Regions from separate parts of the Homo sapiens genome. Here regions 1 and 2 are each linked to region 3. Evidence: fine-mapped expression QTL. A gene starts in region 3. Each other region holds a variant in brackets. All regions are shown on one strand. Distances are between the middles of the regions.

Region 1 (8,175 bases), 130 kb after region 3:
GAGTGTGCGTGTCTGATCATGTTTTGTCTGGCTTTGTTAACAGGGTATGGCATGAATGTGTGTGTGAGTCCAACTGTGCACGTCTGAGTGTGCGTGTGTGATTGTGTTTCGTCTGGTTGTGTTAACTGGGTATAACATGAGTGTGTGTATCTGTGTGATTGTGTTTCGTCTGGCTGTGTTAACTGGGTATAACATGAATGTGTGTATCTGTGTGTGTCTGTACATATCTGAGTGTGGGTATCTAGCCATGTTTCATCTGTGTTAACCGGGTATAGTGTGAGTGTATGTATGTGTGAGTATGTGTGTTCAACTATACAACACATCTAGGTGTGTGTCTCATATTTTATCTAGCTGTGTTAACTGGTTATAGTGTGAGTGTGTGTATGCTTGTGTGTGTGTCCAGCTGTGCATGTCTGGGTGTGTGTGACCGTGTTTTGTCTGGCTGAGTTAACTGCATATAGTGTGAGTGTGTGTGTGTGTTTGTGCACGTCTGGGTGGGTGTGTCTCACCAGGTTTGGTATGGCGGTGTTGAATGTGCGTGGTGTGAGTGTGTGTCTATGGCTGTGTCTGGCTGTGCATGTCTGAGTGTGTGTATCTGTGGGGGGGGTCTCGTGTGTATATCTCGGGGTGAGGGCACACGCCTTCAGTGTGTCACTGTCTGGCTGTTGCAAATGAAGCCTTCAGGGTGTGAGCTGCAAAGCTTTGGGCTCTTGCAGGAAACTCTGCTACTCCCAGAGTTCCCAGCCCCTCTCATGGACCCCCCACCAGGCCTGGGGTCGTGGGATTACTTGAGTCCTCCTTGCCCCCACCAGTCCCCAGAGATGCCCGCCCCAACAACACGCCCAGGAACCTGAGCACAAAAGCTCCCTTCCATTTGCAGGTGACCCCATGGGACCCCAGCTTCCTCCAGACCCAGACCCTGAAACCATCCCAAGGTCCCTGGCGGTGGGTAGGGGAGGCTCTGGGGAGAGGTCCTGAGGCTTGACTCCCCTCTCTGTTCCCACCCACAGCCCTGCATTCTCATGAATAACACTCAACAGCTACGAGTTCAGCTGGAGAAGATGTTCGAAGCCATGGGAGGAAAGGAGGTGAGGCAGGGCCGAGGCAGGGCTGGAGAAGGGATGGGGCACCCCCACCACTGTGTCCCTGCAGGCCCCTGAGCTCATATGCCACCAGGCCTGGGGATGAATTCCAGCTCAACCATGGCCTTAAACCCAGGCTTGCAGCATAACGGTCTGTGCCTCAGTTTCCCCTGCAGCCCCTTGGGATCCCTTTCCCTGGGTCAGATGAGAAAATGCCCAGTACATGTGGATACTTACTGAACCTGGCCTGGTGTCCCTTCTCCCTCCTTAGCTGGATGCTGAAGCCAGTGACATCCTGAAGGAGCTTCAGGTGAAACTCAATAACGTCTTGGATGAGCTCAGCCGGGTGTTTGCTACCAGGTGGGAGCATCTCCAGGGCTGGGGGCAGTGGGGAGGGAACAGCCTTCAGCCCTCTAAGCCTGGGGCATCTGGAGGCTCAGCAGATGTAGAGGTGAAGATTGCAGGCTCAGAGTTAGACAAGGCTGAGTTCAAATCTTGGCTTTACTGCTTACTAGCTGTGTGGCCTTGGGTGAGTCACTTAACTTCTCTGAGCCTTATTTTTTTTTTTATTGCTCTGTAAATTTGGGGTGATGACAATAATAGTACCTGGGTAGGATTTTGAGAATGAAATGAACAATGCGGGCAAATGTCTTATCCCTTTGCCTGGTTCTGCAGTTACTATTTTCCACTCTTTTTTTTTTTTTGAGACGAAGTCTCGTTCTGTCACCAGGCTGGAGTGCAGTGGCGCGATCTCGGCTCACTGCACCCTCCACTTCCTGGGTTCAAGTAGCTGGGACTACAGGTGCATGCCACCACACCCAGCTAATTTTTGTATTTTTAGTAGAGACAGGGTTTCACCATGTTGGCCAGGGTGGTCTCGATCTCTTGACCTCGTGATCCGCCCGCCTTGGCCTCCCAAAGTGCTTGGATTAAAGGCGTGAGCCACCGCATCTGGCCTGTTCTCCATTCTTGCTCGGTTATGTGCTGTGATGCAAATGATATGACCTCAAGGACCACAGATCAGCATCTGTGTCCTCATCCAGCCCTTCCTGTGGTCTGAGCCCTTCCCTTCTGTGTCCCCAGCTTCCAGCCGCACATTGAAGAGTGTGTCAAACAGATGGGTGACATCCTTAGCCAGGTTAAGGGCACAGGCAATGTGCCAGCCAGTGCCTGCAGCAGCGTGGCCCAGGACGCGGACAATGTGTTGCAGCCCATCATGGACCTGCTGGACAGCAAGTGAGCTGGGCCAGGTGGACTGGGCTGGCCGGGGAGGGGCTGGGGCAGGGCCATAGAGACCCAGGGACTGGCTGGAGAGGGTGTGCAGGGAATGTTTGCTGGGTGGTCACTGGATAGTTGGATGGCTGAGTAGATGGTGGCATGAAGGGGATGGAAAGTTGGGTGGGTAAATAATTGGAAGGATTGGTGAGTAAATATTTGTGTGGATGAATGAATGGTGGATGAATAGGTGACATGAGGGATGGGTAGGTGGGTGGACGCATGGATTAAAAGATAAATGTTTAGAAGGATAGAGGGAGGATAGATGTTTTAAAAAGATGGATGGGTGGATAGTTGGGTAAATATTTGGATGGATTAATAAATGTTTTGATGCATAGATGGATTGATGCTTAGATGGATGGATGTCTGGCAGGCTGGCTTGATGGATGGTTGGATGGACGATGGATGGATGGATGGATGGATGGATGGATGGATGGATGGATAAATGGTTGGATATGTGGATAAATATTTGGATGGATGAATAAATGTTTTGATGCATAAATGGATGGACAGATGGGTGGATGGATGAATAAATGGATGGGTGGGTAGATGGATGGATAGATAGGTGGATAAATATTTGGATGAATGAATAAATGTTTTGATGTATAGATGGATTGATGCATAGATGTCTGTCTGGCTGGCTGGATGGATGGATGGATGAATGGATGGATGGATAGGTCAATAGATATTTAGATCATTGAATAAATGTTTTAATGCATAAATGGATGGACAGATGGGTGGATGGATGAATGGATGGTTGGAT[G/A]GGTGGGTGGGTAGATGGATGGATGCTGGATAGATATAGGTGGATAAATATTTGGATGGATAAATAAATGTTTTGATGCATAAATGGTTGGACAGATGGGGGGGTGGGTGGATGAGTGGGTCGATGGATGGATGGATTAATAGGTGAGAAATATTTGGATGGATGAATAAATGTTTTGATGCATAGATGGATGGACAGATGGATGAATGGACAGGTGGATGGATAGATAAATGGATAAGTGGATGGATGGGTAGAAGGATGCATGGAAGGATGGATGGATGAACAGATGGATGGATGGATGGATAGAAAAAGAAATAGAGAATTAAGGACCACTGGGGGAGGGATGGATTGGTGGGTGACTGGATCAGTTGGTGGATGGATCTTGGTGGACTGCCTGTCTCCTTCAACCCCTATCCATCCAACCACAATCTCTTTGCTGTTTTCCCTTTCAAGTCTGCCCTCCTCTGACCATTCCCCTCCTGTTCCTCTTGGGCATGGCCTTCTCCCTCATAGTCCCTGATCTCCATCCTTCCTGTTTCGGTTCATCCCCCACACTGTTCTTTCAAACATGAAAGTCTGGCTGTGTCTCCCTCTTGAACACTCCATGGCTCCCCACTACCCCCATCCTGATAAAACCCAAGCCTTCCTCCCAGACATTGGGGCCCCTTCCCATCTGGTCCCTGCTGACTAGTCCAACCACCACTCACTCTTCTCTTCATGCATCAGATATCATAGCCCCATCAAACCACCCAGGGGTCCCTGTACAGGCTGTGGGCCCTCTTTCCTATCTGTGGAATGCCTTGCCCACCTGTTAAGGGAAGGTGATCTGTGGGTGGGGGCGAGCTGGGCCCTCTCTCAGACCTGCCCCTCGTCCCCAGCCTGACCCTCTTTGCCAAAATCTGTGAGAAGACTGTGCTGAAGCGAGTGCTGAAGGAGCTGTGGAAGCTGGTTATGAACACCATGGAGAAAACCATCGTCCTGCCGCCCCTCACTGACCAGACGGTGAGACCTGCAGGGGGCCCGAGGGGACATTTAGGCCACCTCCCTGGCGAGAGCCCAGAAAACTTGGTGCCTAGAGGCTGGGGGGTAAGAACAAAGGCATCCGGTCTCAGAGAGGTCATCCAGGCTCAAGGGCCATTCAAGGGTCATGGAAGCCACCAGAGGTCAGTGGGGGGCCATTCAGAGGTCAGAGAGTTCACACAGGGGTTAAAGATCATCGAAGAGTTAAAGAGGTCATTCAGAGTCCATTGTATTTTCTCTGGGGTCAAAGACATCAGGTAGAGTCAAGAGACCACTAAAGTCATAGAGGTCACATGTAGGTCAAAATAGCTTTCAAAGGTCAGAGGTCATCTAGAAAACAGGTCAATTTTGGGATCAAGGTTATCCTTGAGCCACGGAAGGCATAGACATTGGCCAGGCACCGTGGCTCACGCCTGCAATCCCAGCACTTTGGGAGGCTCGAGGCGGGCAGATTGCTTGAGGTCAGGAGTTCGAGACCAGCCTGGGCAACATGGTGAAATCTCGTCTCTACTAAAAATACAAAAATTAGCTGGGTGTGATCCTGTGATCCTGGCTTCTTGGGAAACTGAGGCACGAAAACTGTTTGAACCTAAGAGGTAGAGGCTGCAGTGAGCTGAGATGGCGCCACTGCACACTCCAGCCTGGGCAACAGAACGAGACCCTTTCTCAAAAAAACAAAAAAAAAAAAGAGAAGGCATAGACATCAATGGGTTTTTCTAAGGGCTTTGGGGCTCATTCAAAAGCCAAAGAGGGGAGACACCATGGACTTCAGACATCAGAGATCAATAGACCAAGGGGCTCCTGGAAGTCAGCCAGAGGTCATGGAGGGCATCCAAGGTCAGAGAGGTCAAGCAGAGATCATTGGCCATCCAGAGACCAGGACCGATAGACCAGAGGCCATAATCTCTAGGGACCAAGGGGACCCAAACATCTGTAGAGGGATGTAGCTGGGCGTGGGTCCCTCCGGGAGGCATCAAGAACCTGAGGACAGCAATGGCATGTGGGCTGTGGGCACATTAGGGAGTGGGGAGGTCTTTCCCAGGTGGACCACGGAGGCTTGGGGAGGGTGAGCGGGGGCCATAGATGGGCGACGATGGTCGGGGAGGCTCGGACTTCCCATCCTTCCACCTCTTCTGGGCTGGGCTGGGGCAGGGGTCTTGCCCCTCCGTGCTGCCATCTCTGCCCCCTCCCTGGCCTTCCCGGGAGACTCATGGTACCTTATTCCCCCCTCCCCCACCGCCCCGCCCCCATCACGGATGACAGATGATCGTAAGTAGAGTCCCGTCTGTCCGTCTGTCTGTCCGTCCTCTCTGTGTCTGGACTCGGCCCACCGCGTCGCTGCACCCCTCTCCCCACCCACCCAGCGCCCCCTCCTCACCCACCATCCTCCCTCCCGCCTAGATGTGCCTGTGTCTGTCTGGGGCGGGGCATGGGGAGGGGGCGGGGCTGGGAGGGAGGGAGACCACGCCCACCCTCCCTGTCCCACTGAAGTCCAGAGGAGCCCCACTACCCACTCCCAAACCCCAAGCCCAGCTCCTCCTTCGCAGCGGACCTGCCGTCTAAGGGTAGAATCCAACCTTGCTCCCGTGCCCAGATGTCACCAGACGCCCTGAAGCTAGAAAGAGGATCAACCCCAGGATTCCTCTGACCTCCTCTTTGGGCTCTGAACTGTCAGCAGCTTCCCAGAATGCAGGTCCTCACCATGAGGGTCTCTACTTCTGATTCCTCTGAAATTCCATGCTCCAGACCATTCCTTGGTACCCCACCACCCTGTCTACCCAACTCCCGCCATCCACACCGACACACACCAATCCCAGACATACACCCAGGTGCCCAAGTGGGAGACTTTTGTCATGGCTTTGATGTCAGGTAGACTTGGGGTCAAATCCTAGCCCAGCCACTGTCTCTCTCTGTGACCTTGGGAAGTCACTTGACCTCCCAGCCTCTGTTTCCTTGTCTGGAAAATGGGGCTCATTGCATCACCTCCCTGAGGGTAGTTCTAAGAACCAAATGGCATGATGCATTAAAATACTCATCTCAGTATTGCCTGAACCCAGGAAGCAGAGGTTGCAGTGAGCCGAGATCGCGCCACTGCACTCTCAGTGACCGGCCCAGAGGCAGAGCTAATGGTGGTGGTGGTGGTGGTGGTGGTGGTGGTGATATGCAGACATGTGTAAGAGCAGAGACAAAACAACTTCAGATTTTCCCTTTGTGGGCAAGACAAGGCTGTTACAAGATTTCACTTTGTTAAAAGTTTACAAGGGCTCTTACTTCCTGGTAGCTGCAGCCTGGGTCTTTGGCTATAACCACTTGGTGGCAGCATACCCAACCACAGGCAATGCATTTGTAGGCAGGGGGAATAAAGGAATTCGCATTTAATGACTCCCCATATGCCAGGCCTTCTCATAGCTCCTGTTTCAGCTCACCTTCATGATAACCCTTTGAGTGAGGTGGATATTATTATCCCCATTTTGCAGATGAGGAAAGCTGAGGCTCAGAGAGGAGTCACTTGTTCAAGGTCATATAGTAAATATATGCCAGAATCAGGATTCAAATTCAGATCTGTCTGAATATGCAGCCCATTTGCTTTCCTGTTAACCCAAGAACCAAGAGTCTCATGTGTACAGTAAATGTAAATGGATTATATTTTGGCAGTGGCTTTTTTCCCTTCTTTCTGACTTTCTTTAGCTCTGTATCTGTATCTTTCTCTCTCTTTCCTGTCTCTGCCTCTCACACCATTTAAGAGTGAGTCACTAAAGCGCATGCACGTGTGTGCACACACACAGACACACACACAAACACACTATCCCCATGCAACCCAGTCACCAGTACCCTGTGCAGTGTGGATTCCCCCATCCCCATGAATATTCCTGTGAGCATCCCAGCTTCCCACCCTGCACGACTTGCCAGGTTGATCACCCTGTGACATTATCTCTGCAGGGGAACCTCTTGAGAAAACATGGCAAGGGATTAGAAAAGGTAATGAGGGCCTCGTCTCACTGAGGCCCTGAGCTCCAGTGTCTGGGCATGTGTGTGCATGTGTGTGCGTCTGTGCACCTGGGCAGGAAGGGCAGCTGGGGGTCGTGGGTAGGAGATAGCTCTCCTAACCAAGTCCTGCAAAACCAGAAGTCAGAGATGAAGTGATTCTCCAGGGACAGAACGTGCAGTGTGTGTGTCCACATGTGAACTAATGTGTGTGCACAAACAGCTCCCATCCTCCCACAGCAATACCCACAGGGCTCATCTGAGCCCTGGGCTCAGCTGAAATTCTGTGCCTTCTTGAGGAGCCTACACGCTAGATCACCACCCTGGACTGAGACGTGTTGTTTTTTACGTAGATTTCTTTTTGTTGCTGTGCTAATGGGTGTTTGTTGTTAAGGAGATGGGAGCTACAGCAACACGCAAGCAGCTGTCTTGCTGTACACTTGTGCAGAAGATATCGTTGTACATTTGTGTCTACAAATGGAGTCTTAGCTTTGTGAATGTGGGTCACAGGGGTTCCGTACTCTCTCTGCCAGCCCTTTGCGGGGCACATTCAGTGTCCCAGGCACCCTATATGTGGATGTGAATCCGTGTGGGGTCAAGAAGGGTGTGTGGGTTTTTGTGTGTGATATAATTGTGTACGTGCCTGCAAGTGTTTAGGAGTGCACGTATGTAGTTTAGTGTATGGGTTCTTCAGCACTGAGTGAACTTACAGTATATGTTAATATGTTTTTTGTAGACTTGGGTGCTGGGATATAGGGGCAGCCCCTTAGGGAATGGAGGAGGAGACAGATTCCTAGCCCTGTCTCATCTCCCCACCTCCCCAGGTGCCCCATCCTGGGGCAGGCTGACTGTGGGATGAGGCTGCTTCCAGCCTCCTGGGTACCCCGAGAGTGTGCTGGCAGTCAAGGAGTCTGACCTCTAAACCCCTGCTAGGGGACCAGAGGAGGTGCTAGCTGGGGAGGGGGCCCACCATTAGACCCAGGACCTGGGGAGGAGCTCCTGGGCTGGGAAGTGAGACTGTGCTTTGAGGGGGCAGGGAAGTCCCACTGA
Region 2 (8,175 bases), 24 kb before region 3:
AAAAAAAAAAAAAAAAAAAAGAGCTTCTTCTGCCCCCACTCTGTGGTCTCCACCCACTCAGCTCTCCCTTGAACGGGCTCCAGCCTGGCCCTTTCCTATGGAGGGTGCCAGGAGCCCTTGTTGACACTACTGGGGACCTCGGGTGGTCACAGCCCACAGTCCCTCTGACTCGGGGGCTTCCCATTCTCCTCAGACAGCCCCCAGGAGCCCATCCCGCCGCTCTCCCCCCATCTCCTGCTGTCCTCCTGTCTCCAACCCCTCTGGGCTCCCCGGCTGTCCTCTCCTCTGCTCTCCCTGGGCGGCTGCTCCTCCTGTTTTGATGACGTCTTCAAGGAGGGGGTGCTCTGACCTGACCTTCCCCACACTCAGGGTCCACTGTGCACCTGACACCTAAAGGCACAGCCTCGACGTCCCCCACCCCTCCCTGACTCCACCCCTTCCCCATCCTCCTCCCTCCCTTGTCTCCGCCCCTTCCCCATCCTCCTCCCTCCCTTGACTGTCCCTTCCCCATCCTCCTCCCTCCCTTGACTCCGCCCCTTCCCCATCCTCCTCCCTCCCTTGACTCCGCTCCTTCCCCATCCTCCTCCTTCCCTTGACTCCGCTCCTTCCCCATCCTCCTCCCTCCCTTGACTCCGCTCCTTCCCCATCCTTACTCCTCCGAACTCTCCCCTGCAGCGACCTTTCCACCTGCTTCTCCCACTGCCACCCTTACCCCCATCGCCTACTTGCCTCCCTGGTTGCCTCCCCAGTCTCTGGTTTCTGCCCTCACTCCCGAAGCTGCCAGAGGGAGCCTGTGACCCCTGAGTCAGGTCCCGCCCCTCCCCTGCTCATGGCCCTCAGCGTTACTCAGGGTAACATTCACAAGCCCTCCCTGGGCCCATCAGGCCCTTCCTGGTCCCTGCCTTCTCTTCTTCCTCCTTCCGTGATCACCCCGTTCCAGCAGGCAGACCTCCTTGCTGTTCTTCAGACAGGCCTAGCGCGCTCCTGCCCCAGGACCTTTGCAGGGGCTGTGCCCTCTGCCCAGCACGCCTTTCCCCTCATGTCCACGTGGTTCTGTCCTCACCTCCCTCAAATCTCAGCTCAGATGTCCCTTCCTCAGGGAGGGCCCCCACCTGGCACCCGCTACCGCCTGCCTTGCTAAATGTCCATCTCATTGTTGTCCCTGCAACGGTGGGAGGTTCTGCCTGCCTGGTCCTGGCTGTGTCTCCAGCAGCCTGATCAGGCCCTGCCCAAAGCAGGCGCTCAATCCCCCGCCCAGGGTTCCAGCAACTCTCAGGCCCAGGCCCGCTGGACTCACCTCCTCCGGCCAAGGCCTCCAGCCCCCAGGGGCCTGGAGACGAGGCGAGGGGCTGCGGCGAGTCTGGCAGAGGCGGTGCCCGGATACCCCTGGCCTCTGGGGGTGGCGCCCTACAGCTGGGCGGGCTCTGCGGGGTGCCTGGGCGGGGGACCCAGGAATCTGGGGAGGGGCCAGGTGCCGCGTGGGACGGAGAGTCCAGGCCGGAATCCTCCACGTTTTCGGGCGACGAGGAGGAGAAAGGGGAGGGGCTGGAGGTGAAGCCCAGGCTGCTAGAGCCTTGGGGAGGGAAGCGGGCGGTCAGCTCCGACCCTCGCCCACTCAGAGTCCCTGCCCATCCTCCTGCAGGCCACGGCCACGTCGAGGGAAGGTCAGGGGGGCCCCCATTCAAAGTCCTTGTGCACGCCCCCAAGGCTACACCTTCTGGTGACTTCCCTCTCCACAAATGTCCGGCCCATCCACTCAGTCACCGCCCACTGGCCAAGGCCCCACCCTATCTATGGCCCCTCCCACGCGCACTCTGGCCCCGCCCACCCCTACACGGACTAGTCCTCCCTCCAGCCTGGCTTCCAGGGGACCTCATTGGCCTAACTCTGCAATGGCCCCACCCAACCTCCCTCCGGCCACACCCATGCCCTCCAATCCCTTATCCCCATCACCTGTAAAATCTTCGTGGTCAAAGGCTGACTCCAGGGGCGGCCCAAAGAGGTTCTTGGACACCTGCTCCTCTGACTGCAATCTCTCTGCACAGCTAGAGAGGGTGAGGCCAAGAGGGCTGCTTCTATTTTTCCCAAGCCTCATCCCACCCTGGGGCCTTTGCACATGCTGTTCCCAGTCTTTTTTTTTTTTGAGACGGAGTCTTGCTCTGTCGGCCAGGCTGCAGTGCAGTGGCACGATCTCAGCTTGCTGCAACCTCCGCTTCCTGCGTTCAAGCGATTCTCCTGCCTCAGCCTCCAGAGTAGCTGGGATTACAGGCACCTGCCACCATGCCCGGCTAATTTTTGTATTTTTAGCAGAGACGGGGTTTTACCATGCTGGCCAGCCTGATCCCAAACTCCTGACCTCAAGTGATCTGGCTGCTTTGGCCAGTGCTGGGATTGCAGGTGTGAGCCACTGTGTGCAGCCTGTTCCCAGTCTGGAGTTCCATTTCCCCAGCTCTCTTCACAGTCACCTCCTAGCTCCTCTTTGGGGCTTAGCTCCAAGTCACCCCCTCAGGGAGGTTCCCAACCCCACCTCAAGGGAAGTCACCTCCTCCTGTCTTCGCGTCATCTGCTTTAGTTTCTTCGTAGCACTTAGAAGTATCGAATATGCTCTAACTTATTTGCTTTTTTTTTTTTTTTTTTTTTTTTTTTGAGACGGAGTTTCCTCTTGCTGCCCAGGCTGGAATGCAATGGCACAACAGTGGCTTACTGCAAGCTCCGCCTCCCAGGTTCAAGCGATTCTCCTGCCTCACCCTCTCGAATAGCTGGGATTACAGGCATGTGCCACCATGCCTGGCTAATGCTGTATTTTTAGTAGAGATGGGGTTTCTTTATGTTGGTCAGGCTGGTCTCGAACTCTCGACCTCAGGTGATCCGCCTGCCTTGGCCTCCCAAAGTGCTGGAATTACAGGCGTGAGCCGCCACGCCTGGCCCTATTTGCTATTCTTAAAATCTGGAGTCACTAGAATGTGACTCTGAGAAGGGAGACCTGTCTCAGAACCCAGACCCTAGAACAGCACAGGTACACAGCAGGCACTCAATAAATGTTCATCAAATGAATGACTAAATGGTCCCTCAAAAGCCAGCATGGGCCAGGCACAAGGGCTCATGCCTGTAATCCCAGCACTTTGGCAAGCCGAGGTGGGCAGATCACTTGAGGTCAGGAGTTCGAGACCAGCCGGGCCAACATGGTGAAACCCTGTCTCTACTAAAAATACAAAAGTTAGCTGGGCGTGGTGGTGGGTGCCTGTAATCTCAGCTACTTAGGAGGCTGAGGCATGAAAATCGCTTGAACTCAGGAGGTGGAGGTTGCAGTGAGCTGAAATCGCACTCCAGCCTGGGTGACAGAGTGAGACTCTGTCTCAAAACAAAAACAAAAACAAAAAAACCCCAGCATGACGTCAACTCCCAGCCGGGACAAGAGAACACCAGG[C/T]GGAGACATGGGGAGGTGGAGGGAGGAGGTGGGGACAGCCCCCACCTGCCCACTCGTGTGGAACCCACCTGCTGGTTCTGGGGGCAGACCGAGGTCTCTGGGGTTTCCCAGCAGCGTCCCCTACAAGAGATGCACCTCCTTCAGCCTTCTTGTCACCCTGCCTGCAATGCTCCCCACTCCACAGACCAAGGGACCGAGGCTCGGGGGTGTCCAGCCAGTTGCCCAAGGTGATCAGCAAATCAGGCAGACATGGATTCAAGCCTAAGCGAGCCTGTCTCCAGATGCTAGCTTCTCCTGGCCCCAGCTACCCCTTTCAGCTCTCACTTAATTTCATAATGACCTCATTTTACAGAAAAGGAGACTGAAGGTCAGTGTGGTTAAGCAGCCTGCCCAAAGTTACAAAACGGAGTTATGATTCAAGCCCAAACCCATAGCCTCCCTTCCTTAGGATCCTCCCCACTCTGAAGACCAAAGGCTACTCACGTGAAGAATGGCGTTTCATGGTGCCCTGTGGACAAAGTGGGCAACATCACACACGAATGCATCCAGCCAGCCTCTCTAGCAACACCCAGGGCACCCCTCCCACGCCTCACCCCTGGGCCAGGAGGAAGGATGAGGCTGCCCGCGGTGGCCCTGAGCTGTGCCGCTGCTGCCTCGGGGCTGCAGGCTGGAGCCCGGGCCGGGGCAGGCTTGATGTGCACATAGAACTTGCGGGGCTCTTCATCGTCGAAGTCGGAGTCGCTGGACGAGAAACGGGAGGGCTCGGCCGTGCGTGGGCTGCAGTCAAGGTCCAAGCCAATCCCAACACAAGCTTTCCCCCAGTCAGCTCTCCAATCCAGCCTCGTCCCTCCCTGCTCAAACCCTTCGAGGTCCTGCCCAATCCCATCGCTCACCACGCGCCACCTTCAGTCCTGACACCATGTCCCACCAGCACTCCCACCCCCCCCGAGAAGCCTTTGCACAAGCATGCCCAGAACTAACTGGCAAACTCCTATTCGGCTGCAAAACCCCAACACTGGTGCCCCCTCCTCCAGGAAGCCCTGCTAGATCTCCTTTTCTCTCTCCCTCTTGCCCAGTGCTGACCCCATAGAGTGGGTGTTTACATTTAGGTTGGCTTCATCCACAAAGGAGACTCTCTCCAGGATGTACACAGAGAGGACTGCTGAAGGTGGACTGGTTATTACGGAGAATTTTGTCCTTGCTGTGCCAACAACTGCCCCCAGGGGGTGCCAGAAGGATATTGTTCTGGGTCACATCAGGCCGGACAGTGAAACCTTCTTCATCCACCTCTGGACATGTCTAGGGGAGTCAGGGGGCAGCAGTGAGTCAGGCGCCCCACTATCGAACCTTCCATCTCACCCTGCCAACCGCCCCCCGCCCTGCCCCCAGGCCTTGACTCAGACCTCAAAACCAACCCTGATGGCAACGACTGTCTTCCCTGGGTGTGTGGGCAGGTTCCTGGGACAAACTGAGCTTCGGCAGGGACATTATTCACACCCACGTAGTCCATGGGACTTTGCAGCTGAGGTGGGATATGAACCCAGCCCCCAGGCTCCAGCCCGCCCCTCAATCTCGGCTCTTTAGTTTCCAGTAGGGATCGGGACTCTAGGAGCCAAGAGTGGGATCAAACTCCTTCCACTTGTAGCCCAGCCTGACCCCTCCCACATCACTCACCCCTGAATCGGGCTCCAGGAAATCTCTGGGGATGGAGGAAGAGATGTTGGTGTCAGCTTCCGCAGCCCATCTGGTGCCCCCTGTCAGCCCCCAACACTGGACATGGAAGCTGGGGCAGCTCCCAGACTGTGATACTGCCCTGAGCTAGCCCTAGAGGCGGTGGGACCATGGGGCTTGCTTGGGGAGGGGGTTGAATCTGAAGTTAGCTGAGTAGAGAGTGTTCTCAAACAGCCTGGGAGGGAAGGAATCCTGGAACTCATTTGAAGGGCTGCCTTGTGAAGATAGGGAAAGTCGGGGCTAGCCTTGGCAAACAGAACAATCCTGGGCCAGCTTGGGCAGGGAAGATGCTACGTTACTCTGGGACAGGCAATTCCTGGCCTAACCTAGCAAAAGGAAGAATTCTGGACTAGCTTGGGCAGCGGTAATATTGAGCTAGCCGGGGGCAGAGGTACTCCTGGTCTAGCTCAGGTAGAGGGAATCCTGGTCCAGCCTGGAATATGGATACTCCTGGGCTATCCTAGGAGGGGACTTCTGGGATAGCCTGGGCAGGGGAGGGGATCTCGGTCTAGCCTGGGCCAGACCGGGCAGGGGTGCTTCCTCACACAGCTGCAGGTGGCTCTGGCTCCCGCTCCCGCCGGCTTAGTCCTGGAAGGCGAAAGGCCTTGGCTCCCCGCAAACGTTTCATCGCTGAGGATAGATTGGGGGGCACCTGAGCACTGTGAGCCTCCTTTCACATTCAGATCAGCCTCCCTCACCCCCATGGTCCAGCCTGGGCATCCAGGCCCAGACGTACTTGCCTTCCTGCAGGGCAGCCGCACTGTATGCCTCGAAGTCCAGAGGTCCTGAGACAGGAGACGGAAACTCAATTGAGGGGCTGGGCACGGTGGCCCATGCCTGTAATCCCAGCACTTTGGGAGGCTAAGGCGGGCGGATCACCTGAGGTCAGGAGTTCAAGACCAGCCTGGCCACCATGGTGAAACCCTGTCTCTGCTAAAATTACAAAAAAGCCGGACATGGTGGCAGGCGCCTGTAATCCCAGCTACTGGGGAGGCTGAGGCAGGAGAATCGCTTGAACCCAGGAGGCGGAGGTTGCAGTGAGCCGAGACTGCACCACTGCACTCCAGCCTGGGTGACAGAGCAAGACTCTGCCTCAAAAAAATTAAAAAAAAAAAAAAAAGAGAGAGAGAGAGAGAAAGAAACTAAATTGAGGGTGGGGAGACTGCGCTTGGAAAGGGTAGTACACTTTTGGCCACAAAATGGCACCTGGATCTGAACTCAAGGTCCATCAGGTTCCCGGACAAGAACCAGCCCCACATCATCAGAAGTGGGATGGACCAAGGGGCTGGTCTGGTTCCAGCAGGGCAGTGCCACCGCAGGGGGTGACATGAGCTACTTCTACATACTTCCAGCATTTGTGGCTGGAACTTGGGTTGGGTCGGGGAATGGACCATGCGTCTGTGCAGTGGGCTGGGCTTTGAGTGACAGGATAAGGAGTGGGAACTCTCTCCCAAGAACAATGGGGAGCCATGGAAGGTGTGTGAGCAGGAGGAGGACAAAACAGATCTGGGGCCTGTGAAGGGCAAGAGTGGGGCCCCATGCAGGGAGGGGAGACCTGAGCCAGGCCTGAGCCAGAGCGACAGGAGGGAGAAAGAACAGGTTTTGCTAGTTAACAAGACTTGAGGACGTAACTGTATACCAGCATTTAGTGAGTGCCTACTGTGTGCCTGGCACACCCTTTGCCCTTTACCTGCATGAAATCACTGAATGTTGCAACATTATTACATCCTCACTTTACAGATGAGGAAACTGAGGCTCAGAGAAGTCAAAGCACAGGTCCTAGGTCACACAGCAAGCGATGAAGAAAAGACTCAAACCCACGTCTCACTCTAAAACTTTTGCTCTTAACTCCTTCCCAGTCCTGCATCTGCGCATTCCCAAATTGTTCTTTTGCTCAACAACCCTCAATGGCTCCCTTAGGCCCTGGGGGTGAAGTCTGATCAGCCAAGCCTGGCATTCAAGGCTCCTCTGGGATCTGGTTCAAAGACATTTACACATAAGATCAGGCTGGAGAGCTGGACTTGTCAGCAGCCCATTTTTCCCATGAAGAAACCAAGGCCTGGCCATGTGCAGTGGCTCACGCCTGTAATCCCAGCACTTTGGGAGGCCGAGGCAGGCAGATCACCTGAGGTCAAGAGTTCGAGACCAGCCTGGCCAACATGGTGAAACCTCGTCTCTATTAAAAATAAAAAAATAAAAAAAAAATTAGCTGGGCATGGTGGCACATGCCTGTCTGCAGCTGTGGCCCCGAAGCCCGACCCCCAATGGCTGCCCTGACTCACCAGGCTTCTCCCGGCCTGTGCCCTTACTCTCTGCAAACTTCCTGAGTAGCATCTCCACGCTGACGTTCTCGATGTTCTGCTTAAATTCCTCATGCACCTGTGCCGGGTGGGCGGGGTGTGTAACTGGTCAAGGCCCCTTTGCCCAGCAGTGACCCCAGCCTCATTCCTCACACCTGCCCAACTCACCTGCCCAATCTGCACGTGCGTGTCCTCCACCGAGTGAGCATATGAGCCCAGCAGTGCCTTCATGTGCCTCAGGTGTGTCTCCTCCATGGCTTGGAAGCGCTGAAGCAGGAGGGCAGAGGCAGGTGGAAAGGAGGTCAGGGCCAAGAAGAAGTGGCCATATGACTCAGCCTGACCAATCAGAATACCCTAAGCCCTTGGCTCAGTGATTGATTTGGGGAAGGGCCAATGAGAGTCTGCCCTAGGACTTTCATTGACTCTACAGGAAAAGGCACTTCCATTCCTGAGCCAATGTGCTGATGGGATGTAAGTGGGGGTTGCTGGTGCCCAGTTTGATGCACACATGTGCATGCTTGCACACACATGCACACACACACACACACAAGGGGATGTCTGTGTGGGAGTGATGTCCCCAGAGAGAAAAACAGACTTAAGAAGCAGAAATAGTGGTCAGCTGTGGTGTATCATGCCTGTAATCCCAGCACTTTGGGAGGCCAAGGCAGGTGGATCATCTGAGGTCAGGAATTCAAGACCAGTCTGGGCAACATGGTG
Region 3 (8,175 bases):
GGGACTCCTCCCTTGGGGCTGGGGCTGGGATGGATTCTCTTGGAGACCCCAGCATCTCCTAGGGCTGGCTGGGGATGAGGTCACAGTGGCAGGGAGAGAGGAAATGAATGAATAAAAACAACTCTGTCTCACTCAGCAGCCCTTGGGCTACAGGAGGTGATCTCCAGCCTGGACAGTGGAGGGGTGCACAGGCCATGAGACGCCAGGTCAGGAAAACCCCCCAATTCTCCAGGATGGGAAGGGGGTGGAAGTTCCCTGGCTGGAATGACCCTGGGTCCTGGAAGTTCAGTTTGGCCCTGGGTTTGAGCACTGACTCTGCACTTTTTCATGGGGCAACTTCAGGTTGCCTAGACGTTCCCACTCTGGCCCTTGGTCTCCCTATGACACAAGCTATGACTTGCCCAAGGTTGTAAGGCCTGTGAGGTCTGGGGTGGGTGTGGATTCAAACCCAGCCTGACTCTTCCCACTTTAACTTCCATCCCTTGCAGATCCTCTACCTGTCCAAGGCTGTAACCGCAACTCACCCAGTCCTCCCATCTCCATAAAAGTCCCCACAGCCCTGCCAGCATCCCCCGCCTAAATAAGAGTGGGTCTTACCCAAAAATGCTCCCCAAAATACGACATCCTGATGGTCTCTGTGGAGACCCCTGCAGGCCCCGTCCAGTGCCTGTCTGAAGAGAGAGGCAAGTTTGAGCTACAGAGTCATTGCCAGTGTGGGCTTGGTGGGGGGAAAGTCCCTCCCTGTAGAGGAAGGAGAGAAAGGATGAAGGAGGAACTGAAAGCTCCAATGCTAAGAGCATGCCAGGACCCCTGAGATAATTCAGCCCCAGTGCTGGTCCCAAGTAGCTCCAGTAGAGGGGGACAGAACAAGACACAGATGCCCCCAATTCCACAGAGTCAGAACTGGACTAGGTGGAGGGACAAGAGCTGAGGGAGTCTAGATTGGAGGAGGGGGCATGGAATGTGGGGTTTTTAGGCATGTATAAGAGTTCATAGCAGTGGGTAGGAGCAGTGCTGGATGACCCCTAACCTTGACAGGAAAGCTCTGATCCACTTCACAGATGGGAAAACTGAGCCCTCCCCTCCCCCAGAGGGGAAGTCACTTGCCAAGATCACACAGCTAGGAAGGGACAGTAGATTTGCACTCTGGACTGGCTGAGCCCAGACCTGAGCTCTCAGCTCCACTCCAGGCAGCTCCTGCAGGAAAAGGGTTTGAAGAGAAATAGATGCAGGGGCTGTGATCAGCCACATGGGGGTTGGGGTCCCTGAAGTATCCCTGAGGGTCCCCTGGGATCTTCTGATTCCTCTAGGACAGTCCTCACCTTATGTACCCTCCTGGGAGTCAGAGCTCACTCCTCACTGTGATGACCCAGCTGGCATTGCTGCCCCCACGAGTCCCAACCCTGCCCTCAAAAGCCAGTGTTCACCTGGTGTCTGAGTCACTGTCCAGCTCCGTGCCTCAGTTTCCCCATCTGCAAAATAAGAAGGAATGCTTAGAAGGGATCTTGCCGGGGAGCCCCAGGTGTCTCTGCACAAGAGGCTGGGTCAGGCCGCCCGGCAGGGGACGGACAGGCAGTGTCCTTGGCATGTTCTAGAGGCCAGGCTTGTCACTGGAGCCTGCAGGCCTCATGCATAATTCATGACCCCACAGGCAGCTCGGTAGCAGCTGGGAGCCTCGTAGGAACAGTGGCAGGAGTGACAGGGACCCGTGACCACAGGATGGGGAAGCTCCCGGGGCCTCCCCAGGAAAGGACTGAGCAAGACCTTGGGCAAGGCTGCCCCTCTCTGTGCCTCAGTTTACCTAATCTTGAAAGTTAGTTTAGGCTAGAAGTGGTGGCTCACGCCTGTAATCCCAGCACTTTGGGGGACCGAGGCGGGCAGATCACTTGAGGTCAGGAGTTTGAGACCAGCCTGGCCAAAGTGGTGAAACCCTGTCTCTATTAAAAATACAAAAATTAGCCAGGTGTGGTGGCGGGCACCTGTAATCCCAGCTACTTGGGAGGCTGAGACAGGAGAATCGCTTGAACCTGGGAGGCGGAGGTTGCAGTGAGCTGAGATGGCGCCACTGCACTCCAGCCTGGGCGACAGAGTAAGACCCTGTCTCAAAAAGAAAGAAAGTTAGTTAGTTTAATTGGACCCATTATCATTGAGCCTCCAATCCCGGGACTTCTGTGAGTCACCCAAGACCTCCTACTTGCTCACCCAGACTAGAACAATGTCAGGGTCCCTGAGTTGATTCAGCCTCGGGCCTGGCCCTGCAGGAGTCCCCAGTCTAGAGAGACAGAGCTGGACACAGATATCACCGTCCTGCATGGTCAGGGCTGGGCCAGATGGAGGGACAAGGTCCAAAAGAACCTGGACTAAAGGAGGGCTCATGGGAGTTGGGGTTTTAAAGCATGAATAGGAGTTCACTGGGCAAGGAATTATTTGTTTCAACAAACATTCCCAACCCTGCACTGGTTAATGACAGGGCCCCTGAAAAACTTCAGTCCCCACCACACCCCCTTAGGAAACCTAGTTTGGTGGCAGGGGTAGGGTGGTGAGCATGCTACACTGACATCCCTAGGGGAAAAGCCCTAAATTTCCATATCATTTCTTAGCTTCTGTCCATGACCAGGACCCTAAGCATCTCCAAATCTCTTAGAGCTGTGCTGACTGGCATGGGAACCACTAGCCCCATGTGGTGACTTAATTTTTTTTTTTTTTGGAGACAGGGTCTCGCTCTGTTGCCCAGGCTGGAGTGCAGTGGTGCGATCATAGCTCACTGCAGCCTCCACCTCCCAGGCTCAAGGGAGCCTTGAATAGTAGCCTCCCGAGTAGCTGAGACTACAGGCTCACGCCTGAATAATTTTTGTATTAAGTTTTTTTTATTTTTTTATTTTTTCTGGAGACAGGTTCTTGCTCTGTCACCCAGGCTGGAGTGTGCAGTGGCATGATCACAGCTCATGGCAGCCTCGACTTCCCAGGCTCAAGTGATCCTCCCATCTCAGCCACCCGAGTAGCTGGGACTACATGTCTAACTAATTAAAAATAAATTTTTTTTTTTTTTTTTGTAGAGACTAGGTCTCACTAGTGTGGCCCAGGCCAGTCTCGAACTCCTGAGCTCAAGCCATCCTCCTGCCTGGGACCCCCAAAGTGCTGGGATTACAGCCATGAGCCACAACCCCTGGCCTTAATTTTTGTATTAATTTTTGTATTAATGTTAAACCAAGTAAAATTAAATACAATTGGCTGGGCGCAGTGGCTCACGCCTGTAATCCCAGCACTTTGGGAGGCCGAGGTGGGTGGATCACTTGAGGTCAGGAGTTCGAGACCTGCCTGGCCAACATGGTGAAACCCCATCTCTACCAAAAAATATAAAAATCAGCAGGGCGTGGTGGCACACACCTGTAGTCCCAGCTACTTGGGAGGATGAGGCAGGAGAATCACTTGAACCTGGGAGGCGGAGGTTGTAGTGAGCCAAGATTGCCCCACTGCACTCCAACCTGGTTGAAAGAGTGAGATTCTGTCTTAAAAAAATAATAATTAAATACATACATACATACATACATACATACATACAATTATATGCCCAGCTCCTCAGCTGTGCCAGCCTCTCTTCCAAGGCTCAGTAGCTACATGGGGCTGATGGCTGCTGTATTGGATGGCCAACATTGTTCTAGAAGATCCCAGGAACCAAGGAGCCCAAGTTCCCCAGAAACCAAGAATCTCACTACTGTTTTCACAGTTTCAATTAGATTGCCTCACCCCACCTCTGGCAGACAGATACACATGGAGCACCAGTATGTGTGCGACCCTGTACCCAACTATTCACACGCATCTGCTCATCCAATCTTCATGCCATGCCCTCAGAGGCAACCCCAACTTTATGAAGGAAACCGAGGCACAGAGAGATCAATCATTGGTCCCGGCTGACTGTGATTTTGCCCCTGGTCTGTCTGCCAATGACCTCCTGTTTGAAACCATCACGCGTGGCTCTCTGGGTTTCCAAGCTCCCCTTGCCGCCCCCCTAACCCAAACCACCACTCACAGCTGGAATGGGGGACGGGGGGCAGGGCAACGGGTGGCCCCATGCAGGCTTTGGCCAGCCCAGGAAGTGACACCTGCTACTTCTCCTGAAACCCAGGCTCCGGGCAGGGGGGCCTCCCCTCTGTTCCTGAGGGGGGCCAAGGCGAGATGATGGGTATCTACTGGCCAGGGCTCAAACTCACCGGACAGGGTAGCGAGTGGGATGGGGCCCCTGTCTGACGGGGCAGGCGCCAGGAGACAGCCACGAGGCCACTTCCGTCAGCACCAAGTTGGAGGCTTGTGTGCATGGGTTGGGGGGGGGACAGGAAGCTCACCCCGCCCCGCCTACCATCCAACCGCCACCTTTCCTCCCCCGCCCGATCAGCACCCATGGGACCTCCCTGGAACCACACAGGCCATGGGTGAGTAAACAAGAGGCGCTTGAACCTGGAGCCCCCCGGCCTGAACCTGGAGCTGTTCTTACCGAACAAATATTAATCATGGCAATTGGGAAATAACTGAGCACCAACCCTGGCCCAGGCATTCAACATCTTGCCATCCTGAGGTAGGCCGATACCCACTTCACAGACTGGGCAAACTGAGGCTCAGAGAGGGAAATGCGCTCAGAAAGGGGAAGACATGGCCAGGCGCGGTGGCTCACGCCTGTAATCCCAGCACTTTGAGAGGCCAAGGTGGGTGGATCACGAGGTCAAGAGGTTGACACTATCCTGGCCAACACGGTGAAACCCCGTCTCTACTAAAAATACAAAAATTAGCTGGGCGTGGTGGCCCATGCCTGTAGTCCCAGCTACTCAGGAGGCTGAGGCAGGAGAATCACTTGAACCCGGGAGGTGGAGGTTGCAGTGAGCCAGAGGTTGCAGTGAGCCGAGATTGCGCCACTGCACTCCAGCCTGGCGACAGAGCGAGACTCCATCTCAAAAAAAAAAAAAAAAGAAAAGAAAGGGGAAGACATTTTTGCATTCATGAGCGCTTTCCTTCACTACAAAAGAAATTTAAAATTATATTTTAGGTGGTGGCTGATGCCTGGAATCCCAGCACTTTGGGAGGCCGAGGCAGGTGGATTGCTTGAGCCCAGGAGTGCGAGAACAGCCTGGGCAACATGGTAAAACCCCGTCTCTACTAAAAATACAAAAGTTAGCTGGGTGGGGTGGCATATGCCTGTAATCCCAGCTACTCGGGAGGCTGAGGCAGGAGAATCGCTTGAACCCAGGAGATGGAGGTTGCAGTGAGCGGAGATCGAGCCACTGCACTCCAGCCTGGGTGACAGAGAGAGACTCTGTCTCAAAAACAAAACAAAACAAAACTGTATTTTACAACTACATTGACATAAAGACAAATATATTAATATTATACACAAAAATGTTTCCTTCAACCCAAGAGTTCATTTTTTTCCCTTTGGATTTTAAAAGAAGTGAAAACATCAACCTAGGGACCCCTAAAAGCACTGTGAGCCTGAGACACTGGGCATTTTGGGTCTGATGGAGAAGTCAGCCCTGCTAGAACCCAAGTCTCCCAGCCTGTACAGTACCAGCACAAAGCCCAGAGATGGCCGGAGACTTGCCCAAGGTTACACAGCACATTGCCAGCTGACTCAGAGGTCCCCATCCTGCCTTCCCGGCACCAAGTCTTGCAAACCTGGGGCTGAGACATGTGAGCAGCCCCAGAACAGATAAAACAAAGCAGGAACCACATCAGCAACAAAGGCAAGACCCGAGCTCCCATCCTGGGAATCGAGTGGTGCCTGGCTGGGTGTCCGGAGCCGCTGACGTCTTGCCTGATGACCTTGGGCCACTCCTGACCTTCCACGATCTGGCTTCCAGGATCCTGGGAAACAGGATCTCACATTTCCCTCTCTCTTGGACCCCAGTGTATGTACAGTAGGGCCAGTAGCAAGGGTTTTCTCATCCTTCCCACGGACCAGTCACTTGGTTCAAGCAGGTACCATGCTGTTTCAATGACCCACTATGTCATGTCTCCCCTCTTGGCCTCGCCACCTGGGCTGCGATCACAGACAATCTGGCTTGATTCTCGTCACCACACCTCAAGGCAGTATCTTATCTCAACCAGCACCACGATGGGGAAACTGAGACACGTGCCCCAGGTCACACAGTGACTCGGGCCACCAAGTGGGAATCTGAGCCAGGGATTCTCAGAAATTTTCTGTCCTCCCCATGGGTCCCCTCCCTCTTCCTCACTTCATTTGGCAAACATCTATTGAATGCCTACTGTGTACCCAACTTTCCCAGGTGCTGGAGTCTCCTCAGGCAATGCCTTTGATAGACTCCCCCTTCCCCTCCCTCCTCCTGGTCAGCTGTGACCCGATTTAAAGAGCACTAATACTGTCATTAATATTATAATAATCATGTCTGTATTTACAGAGCTTCCTCCTCCCACAGACTCCTCCCATCTTCCCAGAGGAATTCAGCCCATTTCACAGAAGAACAAACAAAGGCACCAAGGGAAAAACACACACACAGGTAGAGGCAAATTCAAACCTGGGGGTGTCAGACTCCCAGCCCCATGCCCACCACTGGGAGGGCGCTCCAAGGGACAGGGAATGAGCTGGCCTGGCAACTCCCACCCCCTCCTGCCCAGGACCTCGCCCGAGAACAGGTTCACCCCTGGCGTGGGTGATGGTATGTGGGTCAGGGTGTGCCCTAAGTGGCCCCAATGGTGAGACCAGGGTGGCGATGCCCCATCCCAGCCATTGCAGCTTGGTCCTATGTTTTACTCCCTGTCCCCATGCCCTCAGCCCCAATATCAGAGTGTCATCATCAACCCATTTTGCAGTGCAGTAAACTGAGGCTGAGAGGATAGCAAGGCACTGTGGGAGGGTCTCCAAACCCAATGCTGTCTTGACCCCAAACCACCCACATGTTAAGCAAAAGAGTGAATCACCATTGGACAAAATGTGGGCTGGGTGAGTTCAGAATCTGTAAAATGCAGGGTCCGAAGCTCCCAACCTCAATTTTCAAAAGAGGAAACCGAGGTTCAGAAAGGTGCTGTCACCTGCCCAAGGTCACCAGTGAAGCAGGTCCATTCGACACTGCCTCCTGGTCCCCAGTGCAGCTGGGGCAGGTGACTCGGGGGATCCAAGGCAGATGGAGGGGTCCCCCACCCCCCAAGCCTCCTCCGCACCCCACTCACAGCCAGCCTCTGGCAAGATCCTAATTTACCTCGATTTATTTTAATCCCCAGAAACAGATGCTAGCTGTACACCCCGCCCCTCAGTAAAAGAGGGACCCCCCCCCCAAGTCCAGGCTCCAGGCCCTTCAAGGCCTGGCCTGGATAAACCGTGCCAGGCAGGGGACCCCACAGTGACCTCCTCCCCAAAATTCCAACCTTGGGGTCCCCACAGAAGATGCCAGTGAAACGCCCCCCACCCCATCCTTAAGGTGGAGGACTGGGATGGGGCAGATTAGAGGAGGGGCCAGGTGACACCCCAGCTCCTCCAGCCACCAGGCCTGGATAGGGGTTCACAGTGGAGGAAAAGGGAAGGGGTCCCTCGTCTCGGTCCCCGGTGGTCTGCAGGCCGGAGCTGGGAAGAGGGAATCTGCGGGTGGTCCCCATCTCAGCCACCGCCCAGGGTTCCAGGCTGGAAGGGGAGCGGCGCCCCCATCTTTGCAGCCCCAGAACCCAGACCTAGGCTTAGAATAAAAGAATTTGGGGAGGGGTCTCGCGTCGTCGCCGCCCCCGTGCACGCTCGGTTCTAGGCCAGGAGACGGGGGATTTGGGGAGCGGTCCCCATTTTCGCCTGCGGACCCCCAATTACCACTTGGAGGGGGAAGCCGGGGCGCCCACCGCGTAGCCCCAACCCCCTGCTCTCCATCCCTCGCGTCCCGCCGCGCCTTTGCCCTCCGCAGCCGCCGGGGCTGCAGGGCACGGTGCGCGTGGGAGGCTGCGCGGGCCAGGGTATCCCAGGGGGTTCCGGGGGGCAACACTCACCTCCTGAGCTCGGGCCGAGCCCCGCGCTCGCCGCCACCTGCGGCTTGGTCGCTGACACCGGAGCCCGCCCCGCCCCTCCCTCCGCGGCTGCGGCGCGGCTGCCGGCGGGCTCCGCCCCCGGGGCGTGGCCTAGAAAGTCCCCACCCCCGCGACGGCGCCAGGAGGCAGGGCGGGCTCTGATCCCGCGCGGCCCCCCATTGG

What was found. PIP is the estimated chance that this variant, and not a neighbour inherited with it, causes the effect.
Region 1: its variant is fine-mapped to the expression of FCHO1 in whole blood (TOPMed, PIP above 0.99).
Region 2: its variant is fine-mapped to the expression of FCHO1 in whole blood (Lepik 2017, PIP 0.93).

Annotation. Positions count from the first base shown.
Region 1 is chr19:17,620,776-17,628,950 of GRCh38, reverse strand. It overlaps UNC13A (unc-13 homolog A), which reads left to right. Exons shown (of 44, transcript NM_001080421.3): 32 at 1,011-1,088; 33 at 1,354-1,442; 34 at 2,166-2,318; 35 at 3,999-4,122; 36 at 5,404-5,409; 37 at 7,081-7,119. Among named protein-coding and RNA genes, the nearest start is that of UNC13A, 63 kb to the left of the region's middle. The variant G/A (reference allele first, on the strand shown) is at 3,121.
Region 2 is chr19:17,772,007-17,780,181 of GRCh38, reverse strand. FCHO1 (FCH and mu domain containing endocytic adaptor 1) reads right to left here. Exons shown (of 29, transcript NM_015122.3): 10 at 7,627-7,725; 11 at 7,441-7,537; 12 at 5,899-5,943; 13 at 5,704-5,788; 14 at 5,102-5,126; 15 at 4,669-4,726; 16 at 4,021-4,199; 17 at 3,911-3,935; 18 at 3,496-3,547; 19 at 1,954-2,045; 20 at 1,298-1,573. Among named protein-coding and RNA genes, the nearest start is that of B3GNT3, 19 kb to the left of the region's middle. RefSeq lists an enhancer at 3,416-3,755. The variant C/T (reference allele first, on the strand shown) is at 3,428.
Region 3 is chr19:17,747,614-17,755,788 of GRCh38, reverse strand. It overlaps FCHO1 (FCH and mu domain containing endocytic adaptor 1), which reads right to left and starts at 4,312. Exons shown (of 29, transcript NM_015122.3): 1 at 4,212-4,312; 2 at 1,428-1,472; 3 at 1,108-1,197; 4 at 598-671. The coding sequence starts at 624. It overlaps FCHO1-AS1 (FCHO1 antisense RNA 1), which reads left to right and starts at 4,392. Exons shown (of 5, transcript XR_007067152.1): 1 at 4,392-4,573; 2 at 5,039-5,131; 3 at 6,426-6,506. RefSeq lists enhancers at 1,114-1,633, 1,634-2,154 and a silencer at 7,840-8,175.